Linked DNA regions of Homo sapiens: all the other regions are linked to region 1. Evidence: fine-mapped expression QTL. A gene starts in region 1. Each other region holds a variant in brackets. All regions are shown on one strand. Distances are from middle to middle.

Region 1 (2,772 bases):
AGTTAAGACAAAGAGCAACTTTAAAGTACAGAATCTTTCCCAAGAAGAGTAAATAAATCCTCATAGCATAAATCAAATTTAATGTTTGACAGTTCACCAGTTTTTATCATCTTTACAACAAACTCAGGTAGCTCTCTAGTAATTTGCCTACTCCATAAGGGGGCATTTATTTACCTCTTTACTATTAATTCTCAGATCAATAGAAGAGACATAAACTTTGAAGAAAAATTCATAATTATACTTCTGCCAGTTCCCTTCAGATTAATTTAGTGAACAGGTGGACAAATTCTCTGTGTCCCTGGAGAACAAGTGAAATATAATGAAAAAAACAGATCTGGGCAAGTACAGAAAACTAACGCCCAACTGAAGTTTTAAAACTTATATTGCAAAAGTGTATGGGTATTGAGAAGAGATGAAAGGTTGAAAAGTAATTTGAAATATGCTCAGGCCATTGCAATATACCCCATTATGATAGGGATTGAGTTATGCGCCATCATACATCTCTCCCATGTCAAGGACTTTTGAAAGGATATTAAGAGGTGACAAGCACATGAACTTAAAAAATATTTTTATAAAGACTGCCACCCATTTGTTTGGCTAATAAAAAGTCAGTAAGACTTCTGCTGAACACTCCGTTCTATGTCTAAATAGCCCATGCCAGGTTCCACTTCACAGGTGTCTCATTCAGCATGCCAGCTGCCAGAATGCCCAAGCTAAGTGTACAACTGCCCGGCACAGAAAGTGTGCATGTTTTTTACTGGGTCATGAAAGTTAGCCTTTGCTCTCATCACCACAGAGAAAAGTCAGAAGATAGCCTGTCTTAGTCAGGAAAAGAAAGTACAGCCTGTAGGAAGCAATTTGAGGGTGTTCCAGATCACACCAACAGCGGATGCTGCATCTGGGTAGTTCACGTACCCGAACAAAAATTTTAAAAATTTGGTGTGGCCTTTGCCATCCATTCACTCCTCAAAAACTACCATTTGCTTTCCCAGAAAGCAAGCTTTCCAGCCCCACAGCCACGCCCCCACGAGAGAAAAAGTCGCACTCACCAAATAGTGACAGGACCCCACACACCGTCCAGATGGTCAGAGACATGCCCACGCTGCCCGTGTTCTGGAGCACGCCCTTAGGAGAGATGAAGATTCCTGCTCCAATGATGGTGCCAATGATAATGGAGACTCCCCTCAGTAAAGTGACTTTCCTCTTCAGCTGCACTTTCTCCTGCCCAGGTGGCTCCTTGTTGCCCAGGGAAGGCAGCCTCCCGTTAACATTTCCCTGCAGGTAACCTCCTTTGGAGATGGTGGACACAACAGGCTTTCTGACCATAGTAGGGACACACGGGGGAAAAATAAAACAGAGGGAAAGAAAACAAAACTTTCAACTTTGGTGTCTCTTGGTGTTACTGATCGATGTCTTCCTCTGCTTTCAGACTGTCTCTCTCAGCGCTATAGTGTTCACAGGTGAAAACTCAAAGGTGTGCTTTTTCCTTCACAGCGATCTAATTACTACTCAGAAACACCTGTGTATGCATCGTGCTCTCAATTCTCCACCTCCTCGTTCCACCACTGCTGCTGCTGCTGCTGCTGCCGCCCTATCATTACAAACCAGCTCAGCTTCCTCATGGGCTTGTATTTAAGCGCCTGCCTGTCACACCAACTTACTACAGCTAAATGATGATGCAAATTCTCCAGGTTTGCATCAGCCACATGAGAAGCCTCCAGCATTACTCAGCTCTTTTTTTTAAAAAAAGAAAAAAACAGGAGGAGCTTGTTGCTCAACTGACCTAAGCTTTTTAGAGAACAAAGCACACACTTTAAAGAGATTTTAGCCAATCCAGAAGTAGTAAATTCGGAACAGACCTTCCCAGAGATTTAAAGCAACTCGTAGTGAGCAACAAAAGCTGTTCAAACAAAATGAAACAGGAAATAGTTACTTCATTTTAAGGAGTTTCTTTTTCTTTAATGCGTGTATAAAAACATTTTACATGCGACTGTTTTGTGAGTAGAATGTATCCTAAAGCTACATTGTTTATAACAACACAGTTTGAATTTCATAATTTGTGTAATGCTTTTTATTTTTTTATTTTGAGTTTTTTATAAGGCAATACAGTCAAATCCAATATTTACAAAATTAAAGATTCTACACTTTATACTTCTGTCACATACACACAACTATAAGCCTTCCTCAACATTAAAAGATAAAATTATTTCTTACTACTCATAATAAACCAGTATTTTAAATCACCATCCGAGTGTGACTAATACAAAATTCACCATGACTCCAGAAAATAGTCATTTTCTGATTCTCATTAGCACTAGGTGATTTTTTTGAACTATGTAAAAGATACATATCCTTCATTGTCATGTTGTTCCTTTGAATTACCAAAAAAAATTTCTAAGTTCAAAATTACACAATTACAATTACATAAAAATATGTATATAGCAAAAGCCTGTAAAGGAAAACAGAATGGTAGTTATAGAAAGTAATGATATTATGTATGACTTTTTTCCACATTATATAAACTATTGTTATTATTATAAATTTAAAATGCATTAAAAATGTAAGCTAAATTAAAATATTTACTTTGCAATAGTCAAAAAGGCAAAACATTTTTAAACCCTTCTAACTTTCTCAACCAAGTGTCAAGAAAAAACAAATATGAAAAGAAAAGAAATCCTAGATATCATTTTTGGCTATAGTTACATGTGGTTTTGGATTCAGTGAGAAGAATTGAATGTTATCATTACCCTGAAGCTACCTTTATACGCACCA
Region 2 (2,772 bases), 71 kb before region 1:
TTTCTACTTTGGACAATTTTTTATGAATTCTATGTTTGCCTTTAATAATTTTAATTGGTATAATTCTTTCAAAAATCCTTATTTTCAAATGGACAAAAATTAAAGGATGAAACATACTCTGGCCATGACTAACCATTTTACCTTAGATGTTTATAAATAACAGTTCAAAATTTCATCATTATATTACTCTCATTTGTAAGTTCCACTATATATATATATATATATATATAAAAAGTGTGTGTGTGTGTGTGTATATATATATATATATATATACACACACACACACACACACACATACACACACATATATATATATATATAATCTTTTTTTTTTGGAGATGGAGTCTGACTTTGTCACCCAGGCTGGAGTACAGTGGTGCAATCTTGGCTCACTGCAACCTCCGCCTCCCGGGTTCAAGCAATTCTCCTGCCTCAGCCTCCTCAATAGCTGAGATTACCAGCATGTGCCACCATGCCCAGCTAATTTTGTATTTTTAGTAGAGATGGGGTTTCTCCATGTTGGTCAGGCTGGTCTAGAACTCCCGACCTCAGGTGATCCACCCCCTCAGCCTCCCAAAGTGCTGGGATTACAGATGTAAGCCACCATGCCCGGCTCACAGTATTTTCTAATACTGGCAAAACAACATCTTCTGAACACAAACACTTATCCACAGATTCTCATTTCAATTTTCTTCTTATCAGTTGTCTCTTTTGCAAGTTGAATGATAATTAAGGTGTGGAAATTACTGACAAAGCCTAGATATAGAAGTGGAAATTTTCTAGAAACATCAGTTGTAAATCTTATTTACAGCGACATTTCTTTTGCAATTTTTATGTTAATATATGCCTTTTCCTAATTAATCTGGACAGTTTCATCTGAAGAGATATTTTAACAGAAGAATATAAAATGTATAAAGAAAATGCACAAACTGTCAAAATTCATCATCGTGTAAAAATAGCCATAAATTTAAAAAACTTCAGAATTACTAACATTGCATGTAGATATGATTACAGATATGGGACTATTATTTTGAACATCTTCTTTGTTGGTGATTTCTCTCATGTTGATAATGTAATTTGAAGGCTTAAAATGCATATGTTTAGATAGACTCATCAGGGGTAAGTTATTAGTGAAACAGGTGGTTGTTCTAATGAGGATTTAATACCAAACTAACTCTTGCTCTAAGATGTGTTATACACTTTCCTGATCAAACTGATGTGAAAAAAAAAAATGACAGATAACTAAAACTTCCTGATAATGAATGAAAAAACATCTGACATAATAAATTCTCAAGGATTTTTACTTAAACATAACTCCTGGATGTGTCTCATAAACAGTAGCCCCTAGAAACTCTTCTTTAATGTATTCAACAATCCCCACTGACCTTTGTTCAAAGTGCTCTGGGTATAATCCATTAAAGCATGAGTGTTTGTTATCTAAATTGGTATCTAAGGGGAAGCAATGCAATGTCAATGTAAAATAAATTTCTTTCTCTCCTCTTTGCCATAATCATGATGTATGCTTTTTTTCAGAATTGAAAACACTTTTCACAGTATAGACATCT[A/G]TAGTGTGTAAAACCATCTTTACAAAACCCATATATACAGAAAAATCTCAGTCTTCAATTTGAAGGTTCTTTGCCGTGCTAACATATGTTGTAGAGAATGACCACATAGTAATTGTCTAGTCTTTTCTCCTAACCCCAATAGGTAGGTATCAGAGACTCAAGAATTGTGCGACTCATAGAATAACTGCATATTCACTTTCTATAACTACATAGAGTTATAACTAAATTTCTTAGAAATTAGTTCGAATATGCTAAAATATATGAATAAAAATAACTGACTCCTTTTGTTTATCACCAAAGTTGTAATTCTCTAGACTTTCAGAAAATGAAGTAAAAATCCCTATTTTGTGTCTCCCCTTGGGCAGATTGCCAAGATCTCAAGTCCATTAGTTCATAACTTATCTTCTTCTGGTACAACTTCCAGTATTATTTGTAATGTTCTGGTTATTTTCTCTACAAAGAAATAAAAATGAATTAAAAATGCATGGAAATCAGAAATGCATTAAAAATAGCAAAATATGAATTATTTTGGGTTGAATACCAAAAACACACAACTGTCTACTTCATAGAGCACTTTCAAGAATTATTTACTTCATTAGAATTCTATCATGCTCAATTAATTTATTTGTCACTTCTGTAACTTCCCATGATGGCTTCTCAGCAAGAATACATTAATATTTTGCATTCAAATAAGGATTTTTATTCATGGACCAGAAGGGTGAAAATATTTTGAAACAGTAGGACCAATATATAAATAAATGTTTAAAAATACACTTTATATCAGTTTAAAATTGGTTTATTCTTTTTGCACCTATGAGATTACAATCAGTTCCTCAGAAGAATCTGGAGGAGAATCAGAATGTAATTTTCATTCTCTAACTTGTAACATGTTATTGAGAATGTTGTCTTATCTCCTAGGGCCTAATTTGCCTAATCAGTAGAATGAGAGACTAAATCAGTGATTCTCAAAGTGCGGTCCCTGGACCAACAAAATTAGCATCAACTACCATACTAGAAATGCATCTTTTCAAGCTCGATCCTAGACCTACTCAATTAGAAACTGAAGATGGGGCCTAGCAGTCTGTAATTCTGATAGACACAAAAATGTAGGAACTGAGGGCATCCCAAGAAAGGCTGGCTCCAGTGTTCAGAAGGAAGTCTACCTTTTTTCCTTCAGAACCATTGAGCTAGATGATTTCTAAGGTCA
Region 3 (2,772 bases), 21 kb after region 1:
ACTTCTCATATTTGCTACAGATTTAGAGTGAGAAGTGATGGCACTTAAATTTCTGCCAGCCACCACTGGCACTGAAATGTTACTTTTGCTGAAGTTTATATCACTACCCTGCCCTTGCTTCTTGCTTATGCCTTTGATTTTCCTCACCTCTTCACCCACTGTACACCGCCCCCAATCATTTCACACCCCCAAATAGCAACCACTCGGAGTTGTATATTTATCTATGACTAGCAGACTAGTGTGAAGTTTTGGTGCAAAGCAAATTGGAGAAGGGCCGTTTCCATATTATAGTGACATAGGGAACAACTTGGAATTAAGAATTAGTTATCTGATTTTAAAGCCTCTTAGCCATTTCTGACGTTGGAGACTTCACCCTTCTTTAATATAGAATGTCAACCATTGCCTAAGTTTCTAGATCTGTCGTTCCCCACCTACTTTCATCTTCTTTCTTGTTCTCAGGCTGCCTAGAGAAGCTCAAAATGCTTCTCACATGACCATTCATAGAAATATGTTTCCCTTTGCCTCACTTCCTACCCAGCCTATTCCTATGCTGAGAGACATTCATTGTTCAACCAAACGGATGGTCTACCATGGTGCTGGTCTCAAGAAACATATTCATTTCACCTAAGAGGAATTCCTTCTCAGTTCTTAAATTAACAGGTTATTTTTTTCTTCTTTCTTACAATTTGAAAGCAGAGTCGTAAAAGAAAAGTAAACATTAAAAAAAGAGCAAGCAAACAGAACAAAGTCTACAAGGAATAATATTGAAAGGTAAAATATGCTAGAATAAATGGTTTAAAAGTCCTGACTAGTGACTTCCAGTAACAGTGCTTCGTTGAAACCGTCATAATGGAATTCTCTCCAGCAAATAGCACAGTGCAACTTTTATTCAGTTTGTATGTGCATGTATGTGTGTGTATCCATCAGTTTCCGAAATTGTAGTAAAAATCTAAATATATGGTGTAATGCAACGTGAGGATGAAGGAAAAAGAATGTTAAGACTTTGGCTAAGTGGTAAAATCCATTAGCAGAAACCTCAAAACTGCAAGCATAATTATGACCCCTGAAAGTCAAATCAATTGTGCATGTCTGTGCGGGGAGTCAGGGTGAGGAGGAGTGGGGCTGAGTTGAAAGAAATGGGAAAAATGAATGTGATTGGTGAAGATGAGAACCTCTAAAGCAGCCACTCAAATGACAAAATACATCAATATGGTGCATTTGTTCTGTCTTTTTCTAAAACTTTGAACTGATCATTCTGCCAAATAAATGAACAAACTGAAACTTAGCCGTCTGTCCTATGCAGCCCTACAATGATTGAATGTACAACAGCTTGTGAAAGAACCAAAAAGGAAAGCCAGGCTGGAGCTAGCCAACAACATATATCATGTGGTAGGAAAGTGTCAA[T/C]GAATATGGAACTAACATTTTTTTTCGAAAAAGAAATGAAAAGAAAAAAAGATGACAGTTGTTCATGAGAAGGCTGAGAGGGAGAGGGCAGATGATAAGTAAAGCTGACTCAGAGAGCACATGGGTACAGTTTTGAAGTACAGCAGGTAGTTATGCAATGCTTGGTGATTACACCCTCAAATACAGCACGACAGGCAATAATTTAATTTTTCAAACCTCCATGTTAAAAGCAAGTTTTGAATTTGGCAGTGAGGCCTTTTCCTTCCACTAGTGTCAAGTGAGAGTGCAGCCATTTCATTTGAATGCCCAGCTGCAACATTCAGTGCATTTATCATAGCTAGATATTTGACCAAATTTTTGTGACTTCTATTTCTTGACAAGAATAGTAGTAAATTGGACCAGTTTTTGCTTTGAAGTCTTCATATTCAACAATGGAATAAGGGTTCATCTTGTACCTATTAGTATCACATATCTTTTCCTAGGAAACTGAGACAACACTGGTTTCCATTTTTAAAAGAGTTATAAATGTAAGGGGTACAAGTACAGTTTTGTTACATGGATATATTATACAGTGTTGAAGTCTGGGCTTTTAGTGTTGACTGTCACCTGAATAGTGTACATTGCATCCTTAGAGTACCTTCTTACCCTCACCCCCTCTCCCTTCCCTGCCCTTCCAAGCTCCAATGTCTGTTATTTCACACTGCATGTCCATGTGTACACATTATTTAGCCCCCACTTATATGTAAGAACATGCAGTATTTGACTTTCTGTTTCCGATTTGTTTCACCTAAGGTAATGTCCTCCAGTTAAGAAAAGGAAAGAAGGAAGGTGTATTAGCCCGATCTCACACTGCTATAAAGAACTGCCTGAGAGGGGGTAATTTATAAAGAAAAGAGATTTAATTGACTTACAGTTCCACATGACTGGGAAGGCCTCAGGAGACTTACAATCATGGCAGAAGGTACCTCTTCACAGGGTGGCAGGAGAAGAAGAAGCAAACAAGAGAGGAACTGCCAAACACTCATAAAACCATCAGAACAGCACGGGGGAAACTGCCCCATGATCTGATCTCCCCCCACCAGGTCTCTCCCTCAACACCTAGGGATTAAAATTCAAGATGAGATTTGGGTGAGGACACAAAGCCTGACCAGATCAGAAGGTAAGGAGGCAGAGAAGGAAGGAAGAGAGAAAATAAGATATATAGGTAGGGAGGGAGCAACAGAAAGGAGCCACTAAAAAAATAGATGTGCATGGCTGAGTGTTTTATGGTCATTTTAATCGAGAGTATGCTGTGTTCTGAAGTATATATCCTCCTAAAATTCATATGTTGAAAGACTAATCACTATGTGACAGTATTAAAAGGTGGGG

Which allele goes with the higher level. Alleles are on the strand shown, and positions count from the first base shown. SD is a standard deviation of normalised expression in the study named. Not every link is listed here.
For the expression in monocytes of the gene that starts at base 1,606 in region 1, allele G in region 2 goes with a lower level than allele A (large effect, 0.76 SD a copy in Quach 2016).

The links.
Region 2: its variant is fine-mapped to the expression of SLC7A11 in monocytes (Quach 2016, PIP 0.95). The same link has a PIP of 0.9 or more in monocytes after LPS and monocytes after Pam3CSK4.
Region 3: its variant is fine-mapped to the expression of SLC7A11 in whole blood (TOPMed, PIP above 0.99).

The regions. Positions count from the first base shown.
Region 1 is chr4:138,240,744-138,243,515 of GRCh38, forward strand. SLC7A11 (solute carrier family 7 member 11) reads right to left here and starts at 1,606. Exons shown (of 12, transcript NM_014331.4): 1 at 1,050-1,606. The coding sequence starts at 1,326. RefSeq lists enhancers at 952-2,151, 1,621-1,860.
Region 2 is chr4:138,170,000-138,172,771 of GRCh38, forward strand. SLC7A11 (solute carrier family 7 member 11) reads right to left here. Exons shown (of 12, transcript NM_014331.4): 12 at 1-2,018. The coding sequence ends at 1,957. It overlaps SLC7A11-AS1 (SLC7A11 antisense RNA 1), which reads left to right. Exons shown (of 7, transcript NR_038380.1): 5 at 1,534-1,707. Among named protein-coding and RNA genes, the nearest start is that of LINC00616, 41 kb to the left of the region's middle. The variant A/G (reference allele first, on the strand shown) is at 1,566.
Region 3 is chr4:138,262,106-138,264,877 of GRCh38, forward strand. No RefSeq gene overlaps it. Among named protein-coding and RNA genes, the nearest start is that of SLC7A11, 21 kb to the left of the region's middle. The variant T/C (reference allele first, on the strand shown) is at 1,405.